Regions from separate parts of the Homo sapiens genome. Here region 1 is linked to region 2. The links come from fine-mapping of genetic effects on gene expression. A gene starts in region 2. The other region holds a variant in brackets. All regions are shown on one strand. Distances are between the middles of the regions. Region 1 has its middle 74 kb from the start of DNAJA2-DT. Region 2 holds the start of DNAJA2-DT (DNAJA2 divergent transcript).

Region 1 (15,668 bases), 76 kb after region 2:
TTGAATAAAAGAGCAAACGGTTAAAACTGGAAACAAGCTCCGTGTTCTTCAGCAGGGTGAAAAGGCGGCGGCCCATGGAAGGCTATGCAGCTATGCTTGTGGCTGGCTCATTTTGGAGGTAACAGTCACAGTTTCCATCATTTAGGGCCCTCTCTGAGCTGGATGCTCTGCCAAGCCTCCCATACAGATTATTACTTCACCTTCACAATAGCACCCAAGGTAGGTACTCAGGCAGGAGGGTGACCTCCTCAAGATCACATGGCTGTGGAGCGTGGAGGTGGGCTCTGAGCCCAGGTCTCTCTGCCTCCAGAGCCTGCCCAGCATTGCAGGTGTTTGCAAATGTTTGTGGAAAGGCCAAAACGTCTTAGGCTGACTTGGTTCTCCTCTCAGAGCAAACCTTCATATTGATGAGGCCGCTCTCTACGCACTGGCTTGGAAAAGGCCCATGAAGGCTTGTTGAGTGAGTGAGAAAAAGAAGTATCTGTGTGTGATTAAAAAAAACACAATTTCATATGGGCTCATATTTTTGTCTATGTCCAAGAATAACTCTAAGAGGATGCTAACCTATTTTCAGTGGTCACTTTTCTGTGGAGAGTGGAACTGAAGTCGGGGTGGGTTCAGGGAGAATTTCTGATGTAATTCTATGAACTTGGTTATTGTCTGAATTTCTTGTAACAAGTATGGTGCTTTAAACATCTTGGAGGCTGGGCACAGTGGCTCATGCCTGTAATCCCAGCACTTTGGGAGGCTGAGGCAGAAGGATCACTTGAGTCCAGAAGTTTGAGACCGGCCTGGGCAACACAGTTAGACCCCCGTCTCTACAATAAATTTAAAAAAATATTAGCCCGGCATGGTGGTGTGCACCTATAGTCCTAGCTGTTCAAGAGGCTGAGGTGGGAGGTTGGCTTAAGCCCAATAGTTCAAGGCTGCAGTGAGCTATGATTGCACCACTGCACTCCAGCCTGGGTGACAGAGCAAGACCCTGTCTCTAAAAATAAAGTAAAGTAAAATAAAATAAAACAATGAAAACCTTGGAAGCGCATTATTTGTAATAGTGAAAATTTATAAACCACCTAAATGTTTCCCACCAAACCCATGAATCCTTCCCAGCCCCTCCAGCCTCAGGCTGCCCTCTCAGCTCAACCTGGGGTGGGATTGAGGATTAAGGCACATCCAAGAATGGGAGTTGGGGTAGGTTTGAGTCCAAGGAAAGGGGGCTGGGCATGTGGGCTCACACCTGTAATCCCAGCACTTTGAGAGGCTGAGGCGGGCAGATCACTTGAGGACAGGAGTTCGAGACCAGCTTGGCCAACATGATGAAACCCCATCTCTACTAAAAATACAAAAATTAAGGCTGGGTGCGGTGGCACACACCTGTAATCCCAGCACTTTGGGAGGCCGAGGTGAGTGGATCACTTGAGGTCAGGAGTTTGAGACTAGCCTGGCCAACATAGTGAAACCCCATCTCTATCAAAAAATACAAAAATTAGCTGGTGTGGTACATACCTGTAGTCCTAGCTACTCGGGAGGCTGAGGCATAAGAATTGCTTGAACTCGGGAGGGCGAGGTTGCAGTGAGCTGAGACTGTGCCACTGCACTCTAGCTTGGGCGACAGAGCAAGACTCTGTCTCAAAAAAAAAAAAAAAAAGAAAAGTGGCTGTGCGGCTGTGGCAGGACCGCTCCCTCCCTCAGTGGTTGCTGGACTGAAGATGGAGGTCTGTGTGAGTGTGTGGTCACACTCATACAGACATGTATCCCTCCACCCCGCCCACACACTCCCGTCAGTCTTCTGCTCCACAATCCATGGAGACCCTGCCATGTGCACGGAGGTCTCACCTCCTCCTGGAAGCCTGCTCAAGGCTGAGGGGAGCAGATGTGGTCCTGCCTCCGTCGCTATCCCGAGGACCCTCACAGCTAAACCTTCTCCCTGACCCTGCTGGCAGGGATGAGCTGGGAGAGGGGACACAGGCTGGTTTGGTGTCCTGGAAGATCAAGGCTCCATGCAGCTAGCAGTGGTCCCAAGTTCTCTCTCATTTTCTTTCTCAAGGGGAAGAAAGTCTTCCCCGGCCCTGTGGCCTCCACAGGCCTCCTCTTCTCCGGAGTAGCTCAGGAAGCGTGAGCTCTGTCTACATGGGATCCCAGTTTTGTGGTGAGTATGTTGATATGTGTGGATATGTGACATATGTGGCTATGTCTATAGAGAAACCTTTGGGCTGGGCGCAGTGGCTCACGCCTGTAATCCCAGCACTTTGGCAGGCTGACGTGGGCGGATCACGAGGTCAGGAGATCGAGACCATCCTGACCAACACGATGAAACCCTGTCTCTACTAAAAATACAAAAAATTAGCCGGGCATGGTGGTGGGTGCCTGTAGTCCCAGCTACTCAGGAAGCTGAGGCAGGAGAATGGCGTGAACCTAGGAGGTGGAGCTTGCAGCGAGCCGAGATCGCGCCACAGCATTCCAGCCCTGGCAACAGCGAGACTCTGTCTCAAAAAAAAAAAAAAAAAAAAAAAAAAAGAGAAACCTTTGGGGAGATGCTGACCAAAATGTTCACTGTGGTTATTTCTGGGTGGGGGGATTGTGGGTGATCCTCGCTTTCTTCTTTTCTCATATGCGTGGTGTGCATGTGTTTAGTTTGTTTTCTAAAGTTTGCATACAGCCCCAGAGATAAAATCATCAAGAGAGGAAGAGAGAGAGAGAGATCTGCAAAAAGCCAGCAGGAAAGGCAAAGCAATGAAGAGAGAATAAAGCGAGAAAGAGAAGGTCCAGAAGAGGCAGAGGATACCTCAGGGGGAGGCAGAGGGCAGAGGGGACAATGGCTATTTCCTGGAGGCCTGGGTGTGGCCCTGGATGGGAGCAGCTGGTGCCCTCAGAACCCACAGTCTTGTTTTTTTTTTTTTTTTTCTGAAACAGAGTCTCGCTCTGTTGCCCAGGCTGGAGTGCAGTGGCGCGATCTCTGTTCACTGCAACCTCCACCTGCTAGGTTCAAGCAATTCTTCTGCCTCAGCCTCCCAAGTAGCTGGGATTACAGGCATGTGCCACCACACCCAGCTAATTTTTGTATTTTTAGTAGAGATGGGGTTTCACCATGCTGGCGAAGCTGGTCTTGAACTTTTGACCTCAGGTGATCTGCCCTTGGCCTCTTAAAGTGCTGGGATTACAGGCATGAGCCACCGCGCCCTGCCAAAGCCCATAGTCTTTCCAGGGCCCACAGGCCTGGTGGCGACTGGCCCCATAGCTGCTCATGGGCTGCCTCCAGATGGCACGACAGTCTCCCTTCCCTCTGGCTCTGTAGGCAGCCGCGGCATCTCTGCTGGTGATGGAGGCAGCAGATGTTAGATGTGGCTGCAGCCCAAAGTCCAGGCTGGGGCAGCTGTTAGGAGACAATCCTCCATGGGCCTCACATGTCTGCACATCTCGTGAGCAGAGGGTGCCTTGGTTCTAGGTGATCTTTCTAGGATGTTTGTACAACAAACAACCTTAGAGGTGAGTGTTAATGTTTCCTCCTGGAGCGAAAAGCAGATGTGCCCACTGCCCATTATAAAATATTCTGCTCCCCGGCTGGGCACGGCAGCTCAGGCCTGTAATCCCAGCACTTTGGGAGGCCAAGGCAGATAGATTGCTCCAGGAGTTGAGACCAGCCTGGGCAACATGGCAAAACCCTGTCTCTACTAAAAATACTAAAATTAGCTGGGTGTGGTGGTACATGCCTGTTAATCCCAGCTACTCAGGAGGCTGAGGCACGAGAATCACTTGAACCTGGGAGGCAGAGGTTGCAGTGAGCCCAGATGGCGCCACTGCACTTCAGCCCGCGTGACAGAGCGAGACACTCTCAAAAATAAATAAATAAATAAATAAAAATAAAATATTCCACACAACCCCTAAGGAGCCCTAAGCTCAGGGCTCCTTTTCAGGAGGTTTTCACTGCACACAACTTTATATGGTACATTAGACTCTTCTCAGAAACAGGGAGGCAGTGTAGCCTGGCAATTAATAGTACAGACTCTGAGAGGGAGCCTGCATAAGCTCAAATCTCAGCTCTACCACTGCTGGGCATGTGGCCTGGAACAAGCCACTTAACATCGCTTCCCTGCAGAAGGTGATCTGAGAGTAAACACTCTAAAGAAAGGGTAAAGCCGGGCCGGGCACGGTGGCTCACACCTATAATCCCAGCACTTTGGGAGGCTGAGGCCAGGAAGGATTGAGGCCAGGAGTTCGAGACTAGTCTGGACAACATAGTGAAACCCTGTTTCTACAAAAAAAAAATACAAAAATTAGCCAGGCATGCTGATGTGCACTTGTAATCTCAGCTACTCGGGAGGCTGAGATGGGAGGATCAGTTGATCCTAGGAGGCCGAGGCTGCAGTGAGTCATGATTGCACCACTGCACTTCAGGCTGGGCAACAGAACAAGACCCTGTCTCAAAAATAAATAAATAAAACATGAAAGAAAGAAAAGATGGGATGAAAACCATTTGGCACTTGTTCTATTAAAGATTAACACAGCCAGGCTTAGTGGCTCACATCTGTAATCCTAGCACTTTGCGAGGCCAACACAGAAGGATTGCTTTAGCTCAGGAGTTTGAGACCAGCCTGGGCAACATAGTGAGACCTCATCTCTACAAAAAAATAAAAATAAAAATAAAAAATTAGCCAGGCATGTTAGCACATGCCTGTGGTTCCAGCTACTTAGGAGGCTAAGAGGAGAGGATCACTGACACCCATGATTTCAAGGCCCATGATTTCAAGGCTGCGGTGAGCCTGGGTGACAGAGCAAGATTCTGTCTCAAAAAAAAAAAAAAAAAAAGAATACATGACTACCCTACGAACCAAAAATTGTACTCCTAGGCAGATACCCAACAGAAACACAGCCCTATGTGTGCCAAAGAAACATGGACTAGAATGTCCAAGGCAGTGCTAGTCACGATAGCCAGACTGGAAACTACCCAAATGCTCATCAACAGTAGATGAAAAACAATTATTTCCACAGGAGAGACGTTGATGAAACAATGAGAATGATTATCTAAACTACATACGACCACGTGATTGAATCCTGCAAATGTCTTGTGGGGTGGGAGAAGCTGAGTGCAAAGCATCTATGGTAGGACTCCATTCACAGATACAGAAGCAGGCATGCATGTCGGCCGTTAGAGGTCAGCTTTGGAGACAGCGAGTGACTGGAAGGGAAGTTTCTGGGAGCTGAGTGTGCTCTGTGTCTTGAACCGGGTGTGAATGTTAATGATGTACTTTTCTGTATGTAAATTATTTTCCAACAAAAATTTAAAAAGTGGAAGGCAATGGTTGGAATGGATTTAATTCAAGATAATGGGAGTGGGTTCTTTGGAGCCTGAAAGGATTGTTTCAGAAAATTCCACAGGCTCCTGTTCTCTTACAAGGCCAACAGTGCTGGAGCAGAGAGCATTTAGATGCCTTCCAGGAAGTGCTGTCCGTAATGGGACTAAGAGGAACGGGTTTAATAACCTTCCTATGCTGGCCGTACTTTGTGGTTTTCAAAGCACTTATCTGATCTGCATTTACTGAGTGTGAAAAAATTGTTATTTTAGTGGTTGGCACTTCTAAAGAAGGGTGCCCATTTAGGAAGTAAATTTCCCTTTCCTCTCCCCTCCCCTCCCCTCCCCTCCTCTCCTCTCCTCTCCTTCTTCTCTTATTTCTCTCTCTCTCTCCCCCCCCCACCTCTTTTATCTCTCTCTCTCTCTCTTTCTCCCTACCTCTTTCTTTCTCTCTTTCTCTTTCTTTTTTTTCCTTCAGGGCTTCACTCTGTCACCCACTCTGTCTGCTGGAGTGCAGTGGCATGATCACAGCTCACTGCAGCCTCAACCTCCCCAGGTTCTGGTGATCCTCCTACCTCAGCCTCCCTAGTACCTGTGACTGCAGGTGCATGCCACCATGCCTAGCTAAGTTTTGTACTTTTTGTAGAGAAGGTGTTTCACCATGTTGCTCAGGCTGGTCTTGAACTCCTAGGCTCAAATGATTCACCTGCCTTGGCATCCCAAAGTGCTGGGATTACAGGCATGAACCACTGTGGTTGGCCTGGATCATCTAGTTGCTCAACAGAAATGCAAAAAAAAATTTGAGTGAGGCTGGATGTAATCTCCAAGGATTCGCAGAAATCTTGGGGCACAGGGATATCAGTTTTCCATTGACAAGGGATCTGAGGTCCCTGCCAGTTTCATTTAAATTTCAAGAATAGGCCGGGAGCGGTGGCTCACGCATGTAATCCCAGGACTTTGGGAGGCCAAGGCAGGTGGATCGTGGATCACTTGAGGTTAGGTGTTAGAGACCAGCCTGGCCAGCATGGTGAAACCCCGTCTCTAATAAAAATACAAAAATTAGCGGGGCATGGTGGCACATGCCTGTGATCCCAGCTAGTCGGGAGGTTGAGGCATGAGTCTCACTTGAACCTGGGAGGCAGAGGTTGCAGTGAGCTGAGAGCACGCCACTGCACTCTAGCCTGGGTGACAGAGTGAGACTCTGTCTCAAAAAATTTTTTTTTTTTTCAAAGAACAGCATGACTGCAGCAGGCTTACACCTGGGTATGGGGAGATGGGGAGGAAGGCTTTGTGATCCCGATTACACAGGATAAATCAATCCCAGAGAGGTTAAGAAACGTGTCCGAGATTACATAGTGAGTGTGGCCCCGTGGGATTTGAACCACTGGGCATAGAACACCTGGAGAGGATTTGGACCCTGAAAGTCCTGCTCCTGCCGCCAGGTTTCCAGGCTGGCCTGACTCCTGCCCTCCTCCAGGCTGGGAAAGTCCACACAGCCCACTTTTTCATCTGTGAGCTGCCTGGAGCCTTCTGATGAATCAACTTCTCTGGCCTTGATAAGTCAGGGCAGGTTTCTGAGCTTGTCCTTGAAGCACCCATCTCACAGATGTGATGAGGCCTACCCTGTGTCCAGCCTTAGCCTGGTCCTGGACATGCGGACCCAGCCCCTCTCCTAGAGGAGCTCACAGTCAGGAGTGGAAGCAGGGGGCAGCTGTCTTCAGAAGGGGATGTGCACAGGCTGCCCGTTGCACAGTGCTGATGCTGGGCTTGCCCAGTGACCACCGCCCTCAAGGAGCTGGGGCTGGAGTAGTAGAGGATGGGGGAGGAAGAAAATGTCCCTAATTTGCAATGACAGGCTTCTAATCTATAAATAGCTTTCGGAAATAGAGCAGAGAGAGAGAAAGAGAAGTCATTTGCAGGCTTACATTCAATTCAACAGCAGCCTTTTTCTTCCTTCTGAGACAAGCTATTTGAGTCTATTCAAACTGAAAAAAACAAAAACCACTTTGAATGACCAAATAATCTATTCAGCCATCTTGATGCCTCTCCCAGCTGGGAATTCACATTTTAGGCAGCCTTTGTCCCAGGGGTGGGTGAAGGCAGGTGAGTTCTGAGTGTGGAGGTGGAACAGTGAATACCCAGGCCCCTTTCCACCCCTCTCTCCAAGAAGTGTACCTGCAAACTCCTCAGCACCAGCCGCCACCATGGGAGAAATTCATTAGCAGATCTGGTTTTGCATAATTTAGTAGCTAGCATTCACAAATTAAGTCTGCTGGCTCCCCTCGTGGTAATGGCCTTTAGAGAGATGTGAGAAAACACAGGCTTGTAATCCCAGCAGTTTTCTGGAGCTGATAATTAATAACAACAATAAACTGCTAATAAGACACATCAGTTTTTCCTTCCACTCATGTCTTCTTGCTTGTTCCTCACCACTGCAGAAGAGGAAAGCAGATCTGATGTCCTCCATCTGATAGGCAAGGGAACTGAGATCTGGGGAGGTGTTCCCAGCTGGGGAGGAGGCTGTTCTGGAATCTGCCTCTTCAGCCGGCCTGGGGAGGGTCCTGGTGCCCTCTGAGCTCAGGGCCATGGCCCACTCAGGAGGCCACTGGGGGACCATGGGAGAAGCAGGGCTCGGGAGCACTAAGCCTCTACCCACAGTCTGCATAGCAGGAACCTCAGTCCTTGCTGGAGTCCTTGGCAGAGCAAGTCCTTCGATTAGCAACACCATCAACAGCTGCAATAATCCAAAGCTAATCTTTGTCAAGTCCTTTCAGCCACCAAACACTCTTTCTGCATGCACCATCTCATCAATAACACACAGTTGCCCATGAAGAAGGTACCTATCACCTTTTTGCTTTGTTTTGTTTTGTTTTGAGACAGTGTCTTGCTCTGTCACCCAGGCTGGAGCGCAGTGCTGCAATCAAGGCTCACTGCAGCCTCAAACTCCTGGGTTCAAGCGATTCTTGCACCGCAACCTCCTGAGTAGCTGGGACTACAAGCGGCACCACATGCCCAACTAATTATTTTTTGTATTTTTGTGGAGATGGAATCTCACTATGTTGCCAGGCTTGTCTCAAACTCTTGGCCTCAAGCAATCCTCCTTCCTCTGCTCCCCAGAGCACTGGGATTATAGTCGTGAGCCACTGAGCTGGCCAAATATCACTTCAATTCACTGGTGAGGAAATGAAGGCTCAGAGAGGCTCCAACAGACCCCAGTTGGAGTGGCTTCCTGGTCCCCAGAGCGTCTCCTTCTCTGGGATCGATCTGGATGCAGGTAAGCCTGGCGGGTCTGCTTCTGACATATGGCCTTGTCCCCTTGCCAAAGCTGATTGGGCCAGGAATGGGCTACTGGTCTCTGTTTGGCCAACCACAGCCTCTGTCTGGGATGCGTTAGGCTGGTGCTAAGGCAAGGGAGGCAATATCCCTCTGGCGATGGCTGGAGCCATGGCAGCCCTGCTCTTCCCCTGCACAGGAGGCCAGGCAGCAGCAGGAAGGCAGCTTCAGAGATGGGGAGCGCAGGGACAGGCAGCATCCTGTGGTGTTTGAGTCCTTTATTCCAGTTGTCCCTGAGGCACCCCAGTGGTGACCAGCCCCGGTATCCTCTGAATAAGCCCCCTTTACTTGAGTTGGTTGGATTCAGGTCTCTGTCTCTTGAAACCATGAGTTGTAACCTAGGACCTTGGCTGGGGTCCCTGGGAAGCATGACGTGGCAGGGACTGGAGTCTTGTCCCCTCTCCACCAAGGCTTCCAGGGCCTCCCGGGACTCTCCTCCTTGTGGGTCTCTGCAGGGATTGCGGCAGCCAGGGAAGGCCCCTGGTTCTCAATGCCCGCTGCAGAGGAGCCCCAGTGAAGGGCAAATAGTACTGAGACTACACCCTCTCTGAACCCCCAAATCACAGCACCAGTGTGGCACAGGGCTTATTCATGCCACCCCTGTGTTCTGGGCAGGACTGCCCGAGCCAGCCATGTGGGGCCTTGATTTTTTGAGGGAGAGGAGTCCATGGTCACCTTGTGGTTGGCGGGGTTCGAGAGGCAAAGGTGTCCATGAAGTGGCCCCTGGCCTTTGCCCTGGGCAGGACTTGGAATCCCTGGAGGCTCTCACTCCAGGAATCAGGGTGGAGACATCCCCTGCCTTCTCCCCACTCACCCTGAGGGCCTCCCTAAGTGATCAGGAATCCAAAGTGTGCTTTCCATGATTTGTGTCTCCTCTCCATCCCCCAAATCCCTTGCAGAAAGGTTACAGGCTCCCACTGCGCCAAAGAATCCCCCAGCCCAGTGCATGGGCAGCTGCGCATGCAGGGCT[A/G]TGGTTGGAGACCACGGCTCTGCCCACTGCTAGCCTTAGGACCTTTAGGCGCGTTCTTCAACCTCTGCATGTTTGAGGCTTCTAAATCCATCACAAAAAAAGACGACAGTAATAGCGAGTAACTGCCTTATGGAATGATTGTTAGGACTCAAAGACATATTACAAGTCAATTGCAGCACTCAGTGAGCTCAGTAAATGCTGGTTAGAGGCAGCAGGCCAACAGAGGGAAAGGGATTCGCCCAAGGTCCCACTGTAAGTCAGGACTCAGCTGGGACCAGAAGCCAGACCTCCTGGCCACTGGTTGATCTCCTCTAAAGACCCAGAAAGCACCGCACTCTCTCCCCCACGCCCACCCCAGCACCCACTCGAGCTGCCAAAGACTCGCAGAGGCATGTGGGATGCCCAGAACCAGGGCTTTATGTTTGGCAGCTGCCTTAGGAAGGGAATGCGCTGGGGAAGGGGCAATGGGTTTCTGTGGATTGGAATTTATAAAGTGACAGTTGGTTCTGGTGATTCAGGCAGTGATTTGTGATTTATTGACACATCAGAAAAAGCTGTCAACCCACCCCAGTCAGCTCCTTCTCTGGAAGGCACCACCAGCTGGGAGCCCCCACCCTCACTCCACCCCTAAACCAGCCCTTTGGAAGTGGGATGTGGGTGGCAGCCTCCCTCCCTCCCCCAGCAGGTGGGGGTATTGACCTTGCTGCCCACAGATGACCAAGGGACAGGGTGGATGTTATTTGGTGAGGGGTGTGCACCGTGAACTCTTTCCTTCCCTATGAACATTTCAGTGAGGTTGACGTTACTTGCTTAAGGGTGTACGTGCAAGCTCATTTCCGTGAGTGGGGTGGCGGGGCACTTGGGCAGGTCTGTGTGTCGAGTCCTGGGCTGTTCGGGAGAACAAGGAGCTGGCTTCTAGGATGCGGGGCTGAAGATGTAGGATGGAGAGGCCCCAGCTGCCATCTGGAGGATGTGGCTGATGGGAAGGGAAACCTCTCCTTTTCCTCTTCTGCCTCCAAGACCTCTTCAATTTTTGTTCAAATCAAGACCATTGGTTATCTTTACAATAATGGTTTTAAAAATCAATAAAGAAAATGTATCAGCAACTGAGAAGAGGTCTTGAAGGCAAAATAACTGGATGAAGGAGGAGCAGATGACAAAGGGGGAAAGAGTCCTAGAGGACGGCCAGGTCCCAGGAGAAGGCCAGGAGCGGGCTCTGACATGTGGAGAGCTTAGGCCGCAACTACGAGGACAGCCTGGGAGTTGTGCCTTCTGTCCACAGGCCAAGGTCTCTGTGGTTCACAAAGTCTTACATGTGGCTGAACCACATACACACCTGCAAGGAGGGTGGAACAAATATCACCATACTCCTAGGTCACAGGCGAGAAAACCAAGGCGTGAAGATGCCATGACTTTCCCAAACTCACATAGGCGAGTCACGGCAGGGCCTTGATGGACCCCCAGTAGCCCATCTGGCACCTTCGGGGAAACCCAGCCCTGCAGGTAGGTGCACAGCTGGCAGGTGAACCCTGCGAGACAGACGTGGGGCACAAGGCACACAACTGCACCCAACAGCCCTGGCTTGGGCTCGAACCGAGGTCTCTGAACTTCAAAGGCCCAGCTCCTTCTGCCCTGCTAGAGCAGTCCCATGAACGATGAAGGAGGATGAGGAAGGGCCTGGAACTCCATGATGGGCAGGCCCCTGGAGCATGCACTGCACTATTTGATTTTCTCCTGTCTGGTCCTGGGCCAGGCTTTTCTCTGGGTGGAGGTCATCGAGGCACATGCTGAGAACTGCCATGGGTAGGAGTGGCCCGCACTGTGTGCCTCTCCTCGACATGTGACCAGCTGATGCCCAGAGCTTGGTAGAGACTTCACACTGTTTCTAAAAAAAAAAACAAATCATCTTCTACAAAACGTCTATCTCCTGGTGTCACGAAGCCACGGACGACACCAGAAAAGGGTGGCCTGTGGAATGTGGCCTTCAGTTGGACACTGCCCTCGGAAATTTGTCCCCGACTCTATCCTTTTTTTTTTTTTTGAGATGGAGTCTCACTCTGTTGTCCGGGCTGGAGTGCAGTGGCGTGATCTCGGCTCACTGCAACCTCTGCCTCCTGGGTTCACGCCATTCTCCTGCCTCAGCCTCCTGAGTAGCTGGGACTACACGCACCTGCCACCACACCGGGCTAATTTTTTGTATTTTTAGTAGAGACGGGGTTTCACCGCAGTAGCCAGGATGGTCTCGATCTCCTGACCTCGTGATCTGCCTGCCTCGGCCTCCCAAAGTGCTGGGATTATATGTGTGAGCCACCACTCCCCACCTTCTATCCCATTCTAAGTGGTAAGTACTACAGCTGGAAAGGGGTAAGGCCAGGACCCTCCCCAGTGAGGACAGGGACTCTTTCCCCACTGTATGAAGCTTACTGCATCTGTCCCTGCTGCTGGACTCCAGCTTAAATGGTTAGCAAGAGGCCGGGCATGGTGGCTTACACCTGTAATCCCAACATTTTGGGAGGCTGAGGTGGGAGAATCGCTTGAACCCAGGAGTCCAAGACCAGTCTGGGCAATGTAGCAAGAACCCATCTCCACAAAAAAATAAAAATGTTGGCCAGGCACGGTGGCTCACGCCTGTAACCTCAATACTTTGGGAGGCCTAGGCCGGCAGATCATGAGGTCAGGAGATCGAGACCATCCTGGCTAATGTGGTGAAACCCCCGTCTCTATTAAAAATACAAAAAATTAGCCGGGTGTGGTGGTGGGTGCCTTTAGTTCCAGCTACTTGGGAGGCTGAGGCAGTAGAATGGCATGAACCTGGGAGGTGGAGCTTGCAGTGAGCGGAGATCGCGCCACTGCACTCCAGCCTGGTCAACAGAGTGAGACTCCGTCTCAAAAAAAAAAAAAAATGTTAGCCAGTTGTGGGACAGCACATGCCTGTCATCCCAGCTACTCTGGAGGGTGAGGTGGGAAGATCGCTTGAGCCCAGGAGTTGGAGGCTATAGTGAGCTGTGATTGTGCCATTGCACTCTGGGCAACATAGCAAGACACTGTCTCTAGAAAAAACAAAACAAAACAAAACAAAACAAAACAAAACAAAACAAAAAAAACAGCCAGCAAGAACTTTGTGAGCAGCCCCAGGTCCTGGCCTTGAGCCAGTCCTAGCAGGGAGAGAGGAAAAGGCTGAAGAGATGGCACACATGGTGGAAAAAGCTCAGCTTTAGGGGCCAGACAGGAGGCTTCAACTTGCAGTAACACTTCTGTTTGCCTGTGTGTCTGTCTGTCCACTTATCCATCCAATACCCAGCACCCGCTTTGTGTAGAAGTTTCTGGTGGAAAGTACTCGCAGACACTGAGGGGAGAGGCTGAATCCAGATAGCAGTTTTTCCCCTGGTGGGTTCACCACAGTCCCTGGTCCAACCCTCAGCCCCAGGCTCACAGTCTCTACCTGGTCAGCATCTCAGACTCAGGAAGGCCAATGCACACCTCCAGAACCCTCAGAGACAGAGGCAGAATATCTACTCACCGAGAGATCACCCGTGAAAATGAATACTGCCGGGTAGACCAGAGATCTGTATGGCCTGACCAGCCCTCTTTCCTTGCTGGCCAATGACATGGCAGGCCTGGGTTCATGGTGGGCACACGTGACGGAGGTCGGTTAGGGATTCCAGTGACTTGTGCCCTGGGAAGTGGTGGTCTTCTCCCAGTGTGGTCCTGCCTTCCTCCGGAACCCGTTAGGTCAAGCATTTCTTCTTTTAATGAACTGAGACAGGGCCACTTGCTCTGCTGGACACTGTTCTGGTCTGTCTCTGGCACTGGTTGCCCTCTCCTCTGCTTGCAGAGCTGGCCACCCCCTTCTCACAGACACATGCTGCCTTTATTTTTATTTATTTATTTTTTTGAGACAGAGTCTCGCTGCATTGCCCAGGCTGGAGTGCAGTGGCCACGATCTTGGCTCACTGCAACCTCCACCTCCTGGGTTCAAGCAATTTTCCTGCTTCAGCCTCCCGAGTAGCTTGGATCCCACCACGCACCACTAACTTTTTGGTATTTTTAGCAGTGACAGGGTTTCACCATGTTGGCCAGGCTGGTCTCAAACTCTTGACCTCAGGTGATCCACCTGCCTTGGCTTCCCAAAGTACTGGGATTACAGGCACGAGCCACCATACCTGGCTGGAACACATGCCGTCTTTAGACACGTTTTTGGTGCTCATAATAGGTCATGGTTGGCCTTGCTGTTTCTCTAGTGTGACAGCGCATGGTTCTGCTTTGCCCTGAGCTGATTTTATAGTTTAACTCTTGGAAAGAGACCTTTCTCTCTGTTTTCTTTTTCTTTTCTTTAATTTTCTTGAGGCGGGGTTTTGCTCTGTCGCCCAGGCTAAAGTGCAATGGCATGATCATAGCCACATGGCCTTGACCTCTTGGGCTCAAGCAATCATCCCGCCTCAGCTTCCTAGGTAGCTGGGACTACAGGAATGAGCCTCCATGCCTAGCTAATTTATATATATTTTTTTGTAGGCACGGGGTTTTACCATGCTGCCCAGGCAGGTCTCAAACTTCTGGGCTCAAGCAATCCTCCTGCCTTGGCCTCCCAAAACCTTAAGATTACAGGTGTGAGCCACTATGCCCATCCCTCCCTGTTTTCTAGTCTTCGAGGGCACCTTAATTCACTTCAAAACACACTCTCTTGGCACAAGGAACATGGAGGTGAACAGTACAGGTCTCTCCTGGCCTTCCTTACCGGTTGGGAGGGAAGGAAAGCCATGCCCTCGCTCATCCGGGCTTCCTTTCTGTGCACTGCAGGCAGATCATTTGCTTGCAAGGATGCAGGCTACCAAGGAAGCCATGGCCAGGCCTGGTGGGGAGCAGACGCCAGTAATGCTGCTGGGGCCACCGCTGTGGTATTCTGGGGTGCGAGGGCTTTGGCTCTCCTTCCCTTTGGGTGTCTTTCATTCTTGGGCTGTCCCTTCTGGGGAAAGGGAGTCCTAAGATTACTGATATTGTTAAGGGATCTTTGAGGAGGATGTTGATATTCTTCCTGGAAACTTCTGTGGCTCATGGGCCTTCACCTGAGTTCTAAATGAGGTACTCAGACAAGTGAAGGATGAAGAAGACAAAGAGAAGCTTTATTTAGTGTTAAAACAGCTCGGGAGATCCGCAGTGGGTAGCTCATCTCTGTAGGCAGGTTGCCCATCCAGTTCAGCTCTCAGCAGAGAGGAGGCCCTGGAAAGGGTAGCTCCTCTCCAGGAGGCTGGTTATTCCCACGTCTCTGCAGGTCTCTGAAGCTCTGAGCAGAAAGGATAGCCTCTCTCTGTAGCTGGTCTTCCTGTCCTCTCTCTGTCCTTCACCTTCTCTGCCCTGCTCTGGCCATCCTCTCTCTTGCTCTGGCTGAGCCCAGGGCTTTTATGTCGCTCAGAGGGGAGGAAGTGCATGCCCACTGGTCCATGGGTGGCCATGGGTGGGCCTGGAAGAGGCACCATGAGTCCGCACTCAGGTCCGCAGGACTGGCAGCCCAGCCCCCAGCCTTCAGGCCCTCTCTGGCCTGAAGGTGGGGCCTTACTGGGGTCCCCCGCTTCCACCCAGGAATCTGTCTGCCTCCTGCTGCCATTCATGACCCCTGGGGCTCGGCCCTAAGCCCTGCTCCAGTATCGGAGTGGGCGCCAGGACGGGAGAGAAACCAGGCAGCAGGAGCAGGGACAGGAGGCTGGGCGGTCTTCCCCAGCCGCCTTGAGGACGCAGGCTGCAGAGATGCACTGGGCCTGTGCCTGGGAGGGTGGCCGCAGCTGCATCCAGGAGCTCCTGTCCCACCAACCTGGAAGGGGCAGGACTCCCGCTTGTCCCCGGCTCCGGCCTGCTCTGTGAAGCGGGAGGCCCAGGTCTGCAGCCACAGTTTGGGGGACTGCAGCTGCACCCGCAAGGGCAGATCCTGCCTGCTCCCGGGCCCCCTTCAAGAGCACAGCGAGTCTTGGATCCACAGCCGCAGTTTGGGTGGCTGTAACCCTGCCCAGGAGGGCGGGGCGTTTGCCTGCTTCGTAGAGCAGGAGGTCTGGGTCTGCAGCCACGGTTTGGGCAGCTGCAGCG
Region 2 (15,668 bases):
AAACTGACTCTTACAGTGCTTCTAACTGCACCTGCCTTGTTAGTCTTTCTTACACAAGCCCGTCTTAGGAACTCACCATGATGCCCTTAACTTCACCAGTGTTCAGTGTTGCTCCAGGGACTCCAAACAGATCTAACCTATTTCTCACAAGCAAGAAGTACTTCTGAATAAAACAAAATACAAAAAACTAAAAAAAGGAAAATCACCTCATGTTCTTTCTCCTGTAGCAAAAGAACAATGTCTCCGGGTTCCACTCCTGGGGCCTGGTCTGCTTCCCCAGTGAATGTAATTCTCTGTCCATGTTTCATGCCTTTGTCTACGTGGACTTCAAGAATCTTGACTTCTTTAATCACCTTCTTCCCTTCACATTTTTTACAGCGGTCTTTTTCATTAATTACCTCTCCTGGAAAGAGAAGTCATTGAAACTTTCAGCAAGAGTACTATACTGTACTCTTAATACCCTTATTCTTTAAATATGCTTTCTGGACTTCTTTTAATCACTACCTAAATTTTTATTCAAAGCAGCATTCTGAGGCCAAGCACAGTGGCTCAAGCCTGCAATCCCAGCATTTTGCGAGGTCAGGGTGGTAGGATCACTTGAGCTCAGGATCTGAGACCAGCCTAGCAACACAGTGAGACCTTGCCTCTACTACAAATAAAAAAAGTTAGCCGGCGTGGTAGTGCACACCTGTAATCCTGGCTACTGGGGAGGCTGAGGAGGGAGGACTGCTGGAGTTCGAGGCTGCAGTTAGTTATAATCATGCCACTGCACCCCAGTCTGGGTGACAGTGTGAGGCCATGTCTCAAAACAAAACAAAAAAAAGCACTATTCTGAATAACAAAAACTTACATCTTACTACTGCAGACTGCCTGAAGGACTCAGCTTCCCACTATTTCAGAATGTAATGTATCCATACCATGTTTAGGGCAACACAGCTTTTCTCTTATAATTATGGTATTAAAAAGCAAAACCGTGATTATACATATTATAGTGTGAAAAAACTGCGTCACTTTCTAATGGCTAATTACCAGCACATTTGAAGGCTTAGAAAGAAGTGTATAACTGATTATTTAGGGACTGTTTCTGTAACAGTACTTGTGCAAAGTATGTTCTGCAAAACACGTTCTTCAAAATGGTAATAGTGGCCGGGCATGGTGGCTCACACCTGTAATCCCAGCCCTTTGGGAGGCGAAGGCGGGAGGATCACCTGAGGTCAGGAGTTTGAGACCAGCCTGGCCAACACGGCAAAACCCCGTCTCCACTGAAAATACAAAAATCAGCCGGGCGTGGTGGCAGGCGCCTGTAATCCCAGCTACTCAGGAGGCCGAGGCAGCAGAATCACTTGAACCAGGGAGGCAGAGGCTTCGGTGAGCTGAGATCACGCAACTGCACTCTAGCCTGGGCAACAGAGCAAGACTCCGTCTCACAAAAAAAAAAAAAAAAGAAAAAAGAAAAATGTAATGGTACATGAGAAAGATTTCAGTTAACTTTGGTTTCTTGATAGTGGGAGTTAGCAATTATAATAAAATAAAAGCAGGCCAAGAGTGGTGGCTAACACCTGTAATCCCAGCCCTTTGGGAGGCTGGGGCAGGAGAATTACTTGAACCCAGGAGTTCGAGACCAGCCTGGGCAACGTGGCAAAACCCCATCTCTACAAGAAATACAAAAATTAGCTGGGCGTGGTGGCAAGCACCTATGGTCTCAGCTAATTGTGGGGCGAGGGGCTGAGGTGGAAGGATTGCTTCAGCGTGGGCGGTGGAGGCTGCGGTGAGCCGAGAGTGTGCCACTGCACTCCAGCCCAGGCGACAGCAAGACCCTATCTCCAAAAATAATAATAATTTAAAAAAATAAAGTAAAATGCCAAGACTCTCCAGGAAGGAAATATCATATGTAACTTCTCATAATTATCTCATCACTTCCAATAGCAATTTGGAAAAGGATGCTATTGAACTATACTGTCAAATATGGTAGCCACTATCAACCTGTAGCTACTTGTTTATGTTTAAATTAATTCAAATTTAAAATAGTTCTCCAGTCACACTAGCCACATGTGAAATATGCAGTAGTCACAGGTGATTAATGGCTACTGTACTGGACACTGCAGATACAGAACATTTCCATCATCACAGAAAAAAATTCTATTGGATAGCACTGCTCTAGAATGGCAGGGGTGGGAGGAGCTATGTGTTTTTATAATTAAAATTTTAATCAGAACACAGCCATATCCATGTGTCTGTGGCCATAAAAGCACTAAAAGGTCAGAGATGAGTAGTTGTGACAAAAACTATTTGGCCCACAAAGACTAAATTATTTACTTCTGTAAGGACAGCTTCAATCTCAAGATCAATTCTGAAAAGCTAACTAAAGGTTACAGTGAAATCTTCCACTTATCAGAATAACTAAACAACTACTTGTTTAGTTATTTATTATTTGATTATTTGTCCCTTTGTAGTTTAAAAGGTTCTATGTGATAAAGGAGATAGTCCTCCTATGGTGGTCATTCCTACAGAGAGAGTAAATAAAAGGTTATATTTGATAAAGAAGGAAATAGCAAAGGGACAAATAATCACCTTGCTCCTCTTTTCTGAATTAAAAAGAGTCACCTTTCACTAACACAATACAAATCTACTGTTTCTCTATGTTCACTGGGCTTAGGCATAATGGAGTAATTACTTTCACACTTTTATCTTTTATTTTTTGCAACAGGGTCTTGTTCTGTCACCCTGGCTGAAGTGCACTGGTATGATCACAGATCACTGCTCCCTCGAACTCCTGGGCTCAAGCAATCCTCCCGCCTCAGCCTCCCACGCAGCTGGGACCACAGACATGCCCTGAGCCCCTCATTACATATTTTTCCACACTTTTTTTTCCTATAGTAATGAGGTCTCCCTATATTGCCCAAGCTGGCCTCAAACTCCTGGGCTCGAGCAATCCACCTCTGTCTCCCAAAGTGCTGGAATTATAGGAATGAGCTAACGCACCCGGCCTCCTTTTTCTTTAATAAGATGTATACAAATACCCTTTGAAATAAAAAATTGTAAACCTCTCCAATATCTGCATTCCCAATCCATTCCAACATAAAAGCAGAGAAGTACTGGCACACATACCTTCTCCATTACAATCAGAGCACACAGACTGCATCTGTTGTACCATCCCTGGAGCCAGCTGTCTGATCATGATGCGCACACCTCGACCTCGACAAGCACTACACTTTTGGACAGCTCCAGACTTTCCGCCTTGGCTAAAGCAAGCACAAGTTATGCATTAGGTTTTTGTCCACAAACCACTCCAATAAGCTATGACACACAGAAATTGTGCTTTTACCTTCATCTTCAACCCCAATAACTTGTATTTAAATTGACTTCCAGAAGTATCAGAAAACATTCTGCTAAGATTTTTTTACTTATTTATTGAGATGGAGTCTCACTCTGTCACCCAGGCTGGAGTGCAGTGGCGCAATCTTGGTTCACTGCAACCTTCACCTCTCGGGTTCAAGCGATTCTCCTACCTCAGGTGATCCACCCGACTCGGCCTCCCAAAGTGCTGGGATTTCAGGTGTGAGCCACCGCACCCAGCCGTAAGTTTTAACTTATAACAATTTTTACGTGGTACAGACATTCAGTGTGATACTTAAAAGAACAGACAAAATGTACCCAATAAACCAGAAGACACACTTACCCACTGCATGCACTACAGAGCACATTCTTGCTAAGTTGTAGTTTGGTTGTCTTGCCATTATACAGATCTTCTAAAGATACTCTGGAAAGAAAAGAATCGGCTTCAATCAAATTTTGCCACATTTTGTCAAATACAAGATATAAGTAACAGCTGATACAGCAAATTCGTTATCAACTTTTAAAACAGAATTCAAAAACACCTCATAATCTCACATTAAATCAATTAAACTGAGGCTTATATTATGGCTCAAATTAACAGAAATATTTTATGACTACAGACAGTACATATATGATACCCAAAGCCAGAGCCTATAGCATCAGGCCAACAATTTGCTGTGGTGGAATTTCTGATAAAGCTGATGACTTCGCAAACTCAAATATCACAACCTTCTGTTCTGAGGCATAAGCCCTCCACCTAACTCCTAATAAAAACCCTTCAGAAGAGGTACAATTATTATTCCCATTTTATGTGATAAAACTGAGGCACAGAACAGTCAAGTAACTTGCCCAAGATCACATAGGTATCTGGCTCCAGAGTCCCTGTTTCCTCCATGGACAATTTAGAAAGGCTACAAAGTTATATTTCGGCTTAAGGGAGTCACTTAGATGGCATATGTCTTAAAAAAAATAAAAGTGGCCCTACCTATAGTATGACAGAAAGGAGGGATAGAATAGTTTTTCATGCCAGGTGCAGTGGCTCATGCCTATAATCCCAGCACTTCGGGAGACTGAGGAGGGAGGATTGCTTGAGCCCAGAGTTCAAGACCAGCCTGAGCAACTTAGAGAGACCTCATCTTTACCAAAAAATAAAAAATAATTAGCCAGGTGTAGTGGCATGTCTGAAGTCCCAGCTACCCAGGAGGCTGAGGCAGGGGAATTGCTTAAGCCCTGGAGATTGAGGCTGCAGTGAGCTGAGATCGTACCACTGCACTCCAGCCTGGGGGACAGAGTGAGACAAGTACTTATGTGTGGAGTTTTCTACTTGTGGCATCATGATGGTGCTCAAAAAGTTTCATATTTTGGAGCATTTCAGATTTCAGATTAGTAATGGTCATCCCGTAATGATCTGCTTTAAAATCCTGGGAGTTAGAGGAACAAAAAAATAGTTTAAAGTATTTTACAAAGCACCTATACTATTTTGTGATATTCAAACTTTCTTAAAATTGTTATTCTCAGAAACTTAAAACTGTTGTAGGCAGGATAAGAATACCACACGTATGGACAAAACATTACCAACAACACTGTCAAATAATGACCTATCAACAGCTGAGCTTTAGACCAAAACGCTTGTTGCATCTTGTATACTCTGCATAACAAATCATTTAAAGAAAATCGGCTTTCTTCCCCTACATATTAAATTACAATTGGTATGCACAACCAGTATCCTAAGCCAGAGAAAAATACACATCTCAACAAAGAAGGCCAAGGAAGGAAAAATGCAGGTAATGGTTTGGCAAGGCTGGCACTCTCCACTAGTGGGGCCTAAACTGGCACAATCCCTCTGCAAGGCAATTTAGTTGTATTTATCAGCCTCAAAACACTCATGCCTGCCTGGGAATCTCTGCCAAGGAGAAACAAAGCTCTACATAAAGATACTCATAGCAGCAGTATCTATTACAGAGAAAAAACCTGGGAATACCCTATATAAAAGGTAAATAAATCATAGAATGCAGTATTATAAACATAGTATTTGTAATAACAGGAAAATCTGAAATGTTAAAACAGCAGAAAACTTTCACTATATAGCATAACTTTTTTTTAAACATGAAGAACTATAAAGTACAGACAGCACTCTTTTGACCCTATTTTCTTTTTAGACCATTTCTATATTAAAGAAAAATATAAACGAATTAACCTGCACTGCACAAATATTACCATTGGAATGGTATCCAAATGTTAATTTCTGAGGGTAAATTCTTTTAAAAAACAAATTTAAGGATTCAATGAGACTCAAAGTTAACAGATAACATGACTTCCTCTAATTTACTCAAGTGTATAAACTAGGATATTATGAAATATTTTAAATAAGTACCTGAACTTCGGCCACTGACATTTGCTAATAAAATCATTTATTGGTCCATGAAAAAAAGAATGGGAAAAAAGACCTCCCAGATTTTGCAAAGTGAAACAGCTATTTTCATACTGGAGAGGGCTTGTGGATTCACAGTCTAAGACCAAGGTCAGGCACCATTCATGTGTTGGCAGGTTAAGGTCAGGCTGGAAGCCAGCAAGCTCCATGGAAACCAACTCAGAAGAGTTCACACTGAGGATCAAGTAATGAGTGACTCTAACATGTACACAAAGTAGGCAGACAGTCACTCATTTTTAGTTTTTAAATAAAAGGTAACTTGGAAGATTCATATACTTCAAAGAAAATAGGCTGGGCGCAGTGGCTTATGCCTGTAATCCCAGCACTTTGGGAGGATGAGGCAGGAAGATCACTTGAGTTCAAGACCAGCTTGGCCAACATGGCGAAACCCTGTCTCTACTAAAAAATACAAAAATTAGCCGGGCATGGTGCGGGTGCCTGTAATCCCAGCTACTTGGGGGGCTGAGGCAGGAGAACTTCTTGAACCTGAGAGGAGGGGGATGCAGTGAGCCTAGATGGTGCCACTGCACTCCAACCCGGGCGACAGGGACTCCATTTCAAAAAAAAAAAAAAAAAAAAAAAAAAGGTCGGGCACAGTGGCTCACGCCTGTAATCCCAGCACTTTGGGAGGCCGAGGCAGGCAGATCACCTGAGGTTGGGAGTTCGAGACCAGCATGACCAACATGGAGAAACCCCATCTCTTCTAAAAATACAAAATTAGCCGGGTGTGTTGGCATATGCCTGTAATCCCAGCTACTTGGGAGGCTGAGGCAGGAGAATCGCTTGAACCCAGGAGGCAGAGGTTGCAGTGAGCTGAGATTGTGCCACTGCACTCCATCCTGGACAAGAGCGAAACTCGGTCTCAAAAAAAAAAAAAGAGAGAGAGAGAAAATGATCTTCACAGTTGAAATTTTAAGTCCTATAATAACAAGCAGCCTCAGAACCATATAAAACCACCTTCCTCTCATTAAAAAATATCGACTGTCCTTTTAAGAGCTACAGCGAAATAGAAACATTCAGATAATCAAATTCAATTTAGTCACCAAAAGAAGACAAGGCAAATGGAAGTTTTTCTAATGAAGGACAGAACACTCTATGAGATTTTTCATCTACTGAGTCATTATCCCACTTGACAAAAAGTACTTAATTTTTTAAAACAACAAAACAAGATATTCACTTGAGTGGATGCATCATGTCCTCTCCTCTTCTTCTGCCATTTCGACTTCTACTCTGATTGCCCATGAAGCCGAACAATCCCCCACCAAAAATGTGAGAGAAAATATCATCCATGCCACCACCTCCGCCGCTGCCTTCCCGAAGACCTTGCTCTCCGTATCTGTCATATAACTCACGCTTCTCAGGATTTGATAGTACTTCATATGCAAAACTTATTTCTTTAAACTATAAAGAAAAGGTAAAAATAAAAATAATTGCATTTTCAAGTAGAAGAGTGGGGAGAAGCTACAGGAATCCAGAATCCATTTAATTCTAAAAAAAAAAAAAAAGGGACAAGTTACCTTTGACTTGATTCTGGTTCTATTTACCACCCACCGCTCCTCAGAATGGTAGTACTCTTATTCTAAAACTAAAATACTCTTGACATTATGAAAATGTGGCTGTGTGGGCATAGTTGGATTTTTTTCCTGCAACATTCCTCTTTTTCAAGGAGGGCAATTTAAGTTAAAGCTAAAACCCCCGGAATAAAAAAGGTGCAAATAACTTACTTTGTCTCCTGCATTTGGATTCTTATCAGGATGATATTCCTTGGCTAACTTTCTGTATGCCTTTGAAAATGGATAAAAACAAAAAAGGTTATAACTAAACACCAGTTAAAAGTTTTGTAATAACTTAATATCCACTTTTCTGAGAAGTAATGTTCTAGAGTTATAACCTTTCAAAAATATTTTCTATTCGTAGGGATTCTTCGGCACTTTCTCGCGATACTGTTTACTAATGTAATATAACCAAGTAGACAGCAGCTATACTTGAAAACAGGTTACAGTGACGTGAAAACCAGATAAAACAATGAAGCAATGCCACAGGGAAAAACAAAACGTTCAAACATTATCCATATTTTCCCTATTGTCAAGTGTCTTTGATGGCCAAGTAACCAGACCAAGACGACCCTAATAAATTCGAGATAAATGACTGTTAAGCTTTGCGGACTGCAAAACATTACTATAAATCAAGCTAAAGTCACAATTCCTGCTCCCGATGGCTCACGCCTTCCTTCTAACTGTAACATCATGAAAAAGTAAAGGTGGTCCTAGTTAGCGTCTTTTGGTGTTTTATTTGCACGTGGTGGTTAACTGGGGTCGTGGTGGCAACTTCGGTGGTAGAGAAGTTGCACACACTCTCAACGAGGTGTTTGGGTCCTAAAGCACTTAAATCTTCATTCACGGAGGCTCGTGAATTATATAATACAGACTAGCATTTCCGGTAAGGTAACAGGAAGTCCACTGTACTCTTCTCACTGCCTAAGGAGCATTCTCATTTTTCTCGGCTTACAAATCTGGATGCTCTTAGCCTGGTGAGGATGCTGTGGGGCTTAAATGCCTCGTGTGCTTTGAAATCCTGAGATGAAAGATATCGCAGCATTGCAAATAGCAATAATAAGGCCTTCTATTTATGTTTACTGTACACTCAGGCGTTTGGCTGGGACCACGGCTTATTCCTAAGCAGGTACAGGACATTAGCATTACCTGCCCAAAGAACAATGCATCCAAACACAGACCCAGCTACCTCCGGGTCAATGGGCGAGGGACGCAGAGAGGGAGGAGCTCCCGCAGCCGGCGGCCGCGGAACCCAGGAAACAACCCCATCCGCCCGAGGCGCTCTGTGGGGGCGGCCTCGACCTCCCCGCCGTTCCTCCCCGCGGAGCACCAGACCCGGGGCCGACGGCCGCGGGGCGGACAGCTTCTCTCTCGGGGCCGGGATGCGCTGAGCACCTCGGTCCAACCTGTTTTTCCGGGGTGGTGACCTCGACGCGAAGGACCGGGCGAGCTGCTGCCTCCCGGGGGATACCAGCCCCCGGCGCTCGTTCAAGGAGGGAGGAAGGAAGGGCTCCCATCGTGTTTGCGCAGGAGTGAGTTTTATTTGCTGCATCTGCGGGCGGGCGGGGCCGGCGGCCCCAAGGTCAGCCGAGGCCGGAGTGCGCGGCTCGCGGCGAGGCCGGTCCCGCCGCCGCCGCCGACTCCCAGCCCGGGCCAGTCACGGCCGGCGCCGGCTCGCGGGCAGCCCAGTAGCGCGGCCTGGCTGAAGAAGACATCCCTGGCCGCGCAGGCCCCGCGCCCCTCACACCCGCCCGGCCCGCTCCCAGATACCTTCTTCAGCTCGTTCTCGCTGGCGCCGGGCGGGACGCCCAGGATGTCGTACAGCTTCGTGTCAGCCACGTTAGCCATGGCGGCCGGCCGGGCAGTGCTCGGGGAGAAGGTGGCGAAGCAGACAGAGCGGAGTCGGGCCCACAAGCGGCGTCGGCGGCGGCACAGGCCGAGGGAGACAGCGAGGGGGAAGCGGGGGCGGGGCTGAACTTTGACCCAGCGCACGGTGCGCCGTGACGTCGCTGTGCAGAGCCCGCCCCCGAGCGCCCGAGGCGCGGCCACTGGGGTCGAAGTATTGAAGAGTGGGCCAGGTTCTCTGTTTTCCTCCAGGTCCAGGCGGCTGGGCAGGGCCAACGTAGGAAATGAAGAACTGTGCACGGCGCACCCCAGGAATTCAGCTTCCTCTCAAAAGCCATGGTTGCGAGGTCGCGTGTTTAACCTCGCACTGGCTGCTGAGGGAATTAACAGGCCTGCGCAGCAGCTTCGTTAGCTTCGAAAGAAAATGGGCCCCGGCTCCCGCAGGAGGCCCGCCTGGCGCGCAGATGTCGTTATTAGAATCCGGGACGTCGGTGGACCCTCTGGGTCTGGCTCCCTCGGGGCTTACGATGAAAAAAACTGGGGGGCGCGTGTGTGTGTATGTTGTGTTTTATATTATGAGAATTCTGAAACATTTAGCAGAAGCAGTATATTACTCCCCATAGTGCAGTTAGCTACCTTTTACCTGTTTCATTGGCTCCACCATACATTTCTAGTGTTTTAAGGGAAACCGTTTCATTCATAAATACCCTAAGTGTATATATTTAATATCTAAGAGACAACTTTTAAAGGCATAACGATGTAATCTCATCTAATGAAATTAACAATTCCTTAATCTAATTCCCAGTCCATATTTAGGTTTTTCAGATGATCTCATGTCCTTTTACAATTGGTTTGTGGCATCCGGGTCCAAACCAAGGTCCACATGTTGCATCTGGACCACGTGTTTAAGCCTCTTACTTGATAGCTTTAAAATTAGCTAACACCAGAGGTTTAGATGGTGTAAGGCAAGTCTGGCCACCAGGTGACTTGATTTACATTCGTTTTAGTTTCGCTCAGAAAGTATGCTGTGCATCTACCAAGTGCTATGATGTACAGAGGCCTGGTCCGGGGAGAGGAGTGTTACAAAAGTGCCTGCCTTCAACCCATTTACGGTTTATGGAGACAGAAAAGTAAGGTTTTCTGATCCCTTGGAACCTGAACTGATAGCAAAGACTTCAGCATAAGCATCTCACTCAGGATAATGTTTCTTCCTTGGCGTTCCCTTTGACCTAGTTGTGGAGGGCCTGAATTCCATGACAAGGACTCTGAAATTTAGCTTGAAAACCCTAAGAGTAATCAGTGATAAGTCATTAATAGTCCTTAAACCCTTTTCCTCAAATCCCATCTGAAATCCTGCTCCCTCTGTGAAGTCTTCCTTTACTGGGCACTGGTGAACACTGCTATCTCATTCGAGTTCCCACCACCCTTCGTTTGTACCTTTTGTGGTAGGATCTCGAACTCTTTTGTTTTTTTTTTTTTTTTTTTTTTTTTACTTGAAACAGCGTCTCGTTATGTCGCTCAGGCTGGAGTGCAGTGGCGCCATCTCAGCTCGCTGCAACCTCCACCTCCCGGCTTCAAGTGATTCTCCCACCTCAGCCTCTCGAGTAGCTGGGATTACAGGCGCCCACCACCATGCCCGGCTAATTTTTGTATTTTTAGTAGAGGTGGAGCTTCACCATGTTGACCAGGCTGGTCTCGAACTCCTGATCTCAAATCATCCACCCACCTTGGCCTCCCAAAGTGCTGGGATTGCAGGCCTGAGCCACTGCCTCTGCCAACCGCCATTGCCGTGTAAATGCTGACGTCATCCTCATGCACGGCTGTAAAATCCAATTCTCTACTTTTCACATTTTGAGATGTTCGTAAGAGACGGTGTAAAGTTATGGCGAGGTTAGACTGTGTAGGTTGGTAGTCTGACTCTGCCATTTAGGAACAATGTGACCTTCAGCAAGTTACTTAACTTTTCTGAGGTTTCCTCAGGTGTAAGATGGGGCTTGTTATTTTTTATATCATTGGTTTAAAAGAGTTATACATTTCTATTACTTAGGGCTGGGCGCAGTGGCCTGTAATCCCAGAACTTTGGGAGGCTGAGGCGGGATCACTCCTGCCTCAAGTCCTGATCACTTGAGGTCAGGAGTTCGAGACCAGCCTGGTCAACATGGCAAGACCCCGTCTCTATTAAAAACACAAAAATTAGCTGGGGGTGGTTGCGCACGCCTGTAGTCCCAGCTACTCGGGAGGCTGAGGTGGGAGAATCCCTTGAGCCCAGGAGGTGGGGGTTGCAGTGAGCCAAGATCACACCACTGCACTCCAGCCTGGGTGACAGAGTGAGACCCTGTCTCAAAATAATAATAAATAATTAAAATTTAAAAAATTACTAAGAAGCTAAAAGAAATTAAGTATAAACTATTGTTCTTGGCCCATATGCTTACGTTGTCTTTGCTCATTTAAATTTCTGGCTTTTCTACTGGGATTCCCTGACTTCTTCCATTACCTATGGGGAATGCCCCTCCGTCCCTTTTCATGACCTCATCTTCCCAAATCTCCTTGCTTGTCAGTTATCATTTTCTCTCGTCTCATTTCTCTGTTAGTTCCTGCTCCACGTAAGAATATGAACTGAAAATCTGTCTTTGTTGCAACCTTCATATTAATTTATCTTATTTGTTTCATATTGTTTTATCTTATTTTCCTTCTGCCCATGAACAGTTTAAAAGGGCTGGAGTTTCCTATTTGTTTCAGTTTTACTCAGTTTTTTTTTTTGCAAGAGGAAAAAATTCTCTCTTGATGCCATTTTAGCTTCTGATATTGTAATGAAGAGTAGCTGGGTAAATTCCCTCTTTTGTTCTTGTTATTTTATTTTAGTTTTTTACCTGACTAGACCAGTAACCACAGTAACTATTTTTGAATTTCATTTTCATTTCTTTGCAATATTTTCTCCATTTCTGGGTATTAATTGTAGTCAGCATAATTTGCTAATTTTATAGCTCGAGTTATTTCAGAAGAACTTTGTGTGCTTAAACTGACACAGGGTCTCCTCCCAAGGATCACAGACTGAGATAAACCTGTGTCAGTGTGAGCACTGTAATGTTCCAGCCACTAACTGTTTTGAGGTAGCATATTTATTTTGGCTTCATGTTTAGCCAATGCTGTGAAGGGAAAAGGACCTTTATCTCATTTCATGTCTCAGGCACTGTAAAATGCTGAGTCACAGTACACCTGAGCGCTGCAGTGATCTAAAGTTTGAGGCGGCAGTGATTTCAGATTTCTGCCAGGCTTATATTGGTGTTCAATTCCTTTGCTTTGATTTAGTATGCTTGTGTAACTGTGAAGGGTTGGGATGGAGAGGAGGTGGATATGGACTGGGACGGGGGGTATAGGAACTGTAGTATTTTTGAAGACCATTGATACTGTTCACAAGTAATTGGGAACTGTGTAATCCATTACTTAGACAACTCCAGATATATCATTGAGGCAGTCAGAAAATAGTTTTGCTTTCTGCTTTAACTAGGTTTGAATGTATAGAGTAAGTGATGCAGGTTAAAATATTTTGGGGGGATACAGAAGAAGGTACTGATGGTTCTTGTTATGAGGGTGTCAGGACCACATAATTTGATGATTGTTGGTACTCTGGAAAGAAAAAATTGTGGGACTTGGATCACTGAATAATCTCTGAATTTCTTTCAGTGCTTAAAGTAGATTATTCAGTGATGGGGCAGCACAGTTGTATGTGGTAGGTATTTCTAGCCCCACTGCTGGCCTTTCAAACCCAGTCGTGTCAAACCCTGCCTTATTAATTAGCATTTTCCAAAGGTTCAGTTTGCTTATATAATTGCAGTGGTATAGTAAGCAGAGAAATTGACCCAATAAATTTAGCCATCTAACAATTAGTGTGGGAAAAATAGTGGAGAAGATATGTCTATTGTGATAATATGAGATATGAATATGAATATATATGTTTTCCACATATATGTGTATATATATACACACACCTCATTACCACTGTAATATATATATAATATATACATAATATACATAAAGGCCAGGCGTGGTGGCTTATGCGCGTAATCCCAGCACTTTGGGAGGCCAAGGTGGGTGGATCACGAGGTCAGGAGATCGAGACCATCCTGGCTAACACGGTGAAACCCCGTCTCTACTAGAAATACAAAAAATTAGCCGGGCGTGGTGGTGGGCACCTGTAGTCCCAGCTACTTGGGAGGCTGGGGCAGGAGAATGGCGTGAACCCGGGAGGCCAAGCTTGCAGTGAGCGGAGATCGCACCACTGCACTCCAGCTTGGGCAACAGAGCGAGACTCCATCTCAAAAAAAAAATTCGATTAGCCTGGACAACATAGCAAGACCCGTCTCTACAAAAATTTTTTAAAATTAGCTGGGGCTGGGGAGTGGTGGCTCATACCTGTAATCCCAGCACTTCAAGAGGCCGAGGTGGTAGGATAATTTGAGACCAGCCTGGGCAACATAGCGAGTTGTTTTTTTTTTTTTTTTTTGAGACGGAATCTCACTCTGTCACCCAGGCTGGAGTGCAGTGGCACGATCTTGGCTCACTGCAATCTCTGCCTCCCAGGTTCAAGTGATTATCCTGCCTCAGCCTCCCGAGTAGCTGGAACTACAGGTGTTTGCCACCATGCTGGGCAAATTTTTTGTATTTCTAGTAGAGATGGGGTTTCACCATGTTGGCCAGGCTGGTCTCGAACTCCTGACCTCAAGTGATCTGCCTGCCTCGGCCTCCCAAAGTGCTAAGATTACAGGTGTGAGCCACTATGCCCGGCCCGCAAGATCTTATCTCTAAAAAAAAGAAGAAAGAAAAAATTAGCTGGGTGTTGTGCACCTGTCATCCTAGCTATTTGAGAGGCTCAGGTGGGAGAATCACTTGAGCCCGAGAGTTGAAAGTTACAGTGAACTATGATTGTGCCACTGCCCTCCATCCTGGGTGACAGAGTGAGACCCTATCTTTAAAAAAATATATTTTTAATTATGAGAAGAGAAGGAATTATCTGACCTATCTTGTCTGATTGTAGGTCATGAGACTTCCATTTCTGAAGGGGTCCTGTTCCATATCCTCAAGAAGGGAGTGCTGCACAGAGAGGCCATGAGGAATCTAAGCAGACAGGCCTTGCTGGGTTTCCCCACTCAGTCTGTTAATATTAGATCATACCTTTTTGTCCAGTCACATTTTTACATGGTTGTCAATTATGCCTGTCCAGTAAAGTCTCCATAAAAGGCCCAAGAAGACAGAGTTGGAGTTCCTGGATAGCTGAACATGTGGAGGTTCCTGGAGGGTGGGGCACCTGGGCATAAAAGCTCTGAGCCCCTTCCCTCATACCTTGCTCTGTGCATCCCTCCATCTGTATCCTTTGTAACATTCCTTATAATAAATTGGTAAATGTGTTTCCCAGAGTCCTGTGAGCCACTGTAGCAAAATTAATCAAACCCAAGGAAGGGTTCATGGGAACCCTAATTTCTATTCAGCTGGTCAGAGACACAGGTGAAACAACCTGGGGCTTGCTATTGGTATCAGAAGTGAGGCGACTGAGCCCTCAACCTGTGGGATCTGATGCTACCAAGTAGATAGTGTCAGAATTGAGTTGGAGGTCACCTACCTGGTGTCTACTGTATAATTGATTGCTTGCTTGTTGGTGGGGAGAAATCCCCACATATTTGGTCACAGAAGTCTTCTGTGTTAATTGAGTGCGAGAATCTGAATCTGAGTTTTTTTCACTTATCTATAGATTCATTCATTCAACAAATATGTGTTGTGGACCCTCCTATGTGGCAGGCACTGTTTGGTAGGATAGGGGACAGCCATAAACGAAACAAAATCGCTGCCTTTACAGAATGTACATCTAGTGGGGAAGGCAGGCAGTAAATAAGTAAATACATAGCATATCAGATGGTATTATGTGCTGTAGAGAAAACGAGAGTATTGGGGTTGGGAACAATTTTTATTTAAGGTGTTTGAGGAAGGTGACATTTGAACAGTGATCTAGAGGAAGCAGGGCCTTGAGGATATGTGAGAAAACAATTGCTGAGGCAGTGGGCCTGCAAAGGCCCTAAGGCAGAGCATGCCTGGTTTGTTAGAGGAAGGAGGCCAGTATGACTGGGTAGCAGCAAGGTAGGGAGATCTTGGAAAGAGCTCACATCAGAGAGGTTGTCGGGGACTCAATCAGGTCCACTATAAAGACTTTGATGTTTACTCTGAGTGAGCTGGGAAGCTGTTAAAGGGTTTTGGTTTTTTTGTTTTTTGTTTTTTTTTTTTTGAGATAGAGTCTTGCTCTGTCACCCAGACTGAAGTGCAATGGCGCCATCTCCACTCATTGCACCCTCCACTTCCTGGGCTCAAGTGATTCTCCAGCCTCAGCCTCTTGAGTAGCTGGGACTATAGGCATGTACCACCAATGCCTGGCTAATTTTTATATTTTTTGTAGAGACAGGGTTTTGCCGTGTTGCCCAGGCTGGTCTCGAAACTCCTAAGCTCAAAGTGATCCG

What was found. PIP is the estimated chance that this variant, and not a neighbour inherited with it, causes the effect. A credible set is the group of variants that fine-mapping cannot tell apart.
Region 1: its variant is the best candidate, but not a certain one, in a credible set for the expression of DNAJA2-DT in spleen (GTEx, PIP 0.90).

What each region holds. Positions count from the first base shown.
Region 1 is chr16:47,040,105-47,055,772 of GRCh38, forward strand. No RefSeq gene overlaps it. Among named protein-coding and RNA genes, the nearest start is that of DNAJA2-DT, 74 kb to the left of the region's middle. RefSeq lists enhancers at 6,831-6,910, 6,921-6,970 and a silencer at 12,680-12,880. The variant A/G (reference allele first, on the strand shown) is at 9,594.
Region 2 is chr16:46,964,405-46,980,072 of GRCh38, forward strand. It overlaps DNAJA2-DT (DNAJA2 divergent transcript), which reads left to right and starts at 9,368. Exons shown (of 2, transcript NR_186372.1): 1 at 9,368-9,721; 2 at 14,201-14,579. It overlaps DNAJA2 (DnaJ heat shock protein family (Hsp40) member A2), which reads right to left and starts at 9,270. Exons shown (of 9, transcript NM_005880.4): 1 at 9,091-9,270; 2 at 7,492-7,551; 3 at 6,945-7,168; 4 at 3,680-3,760; 5 at 3,109-3,242; 6 at 207-403. The coding sequence starts at 9,168. RefSeq lists enhancers at 772-1,497, 9,462-9,531, 9,592-9,681 and silencers at 8,142-8,221, 8,572-8,641, 8,672-8,721, 8,872-8,951, 8,982-9,031.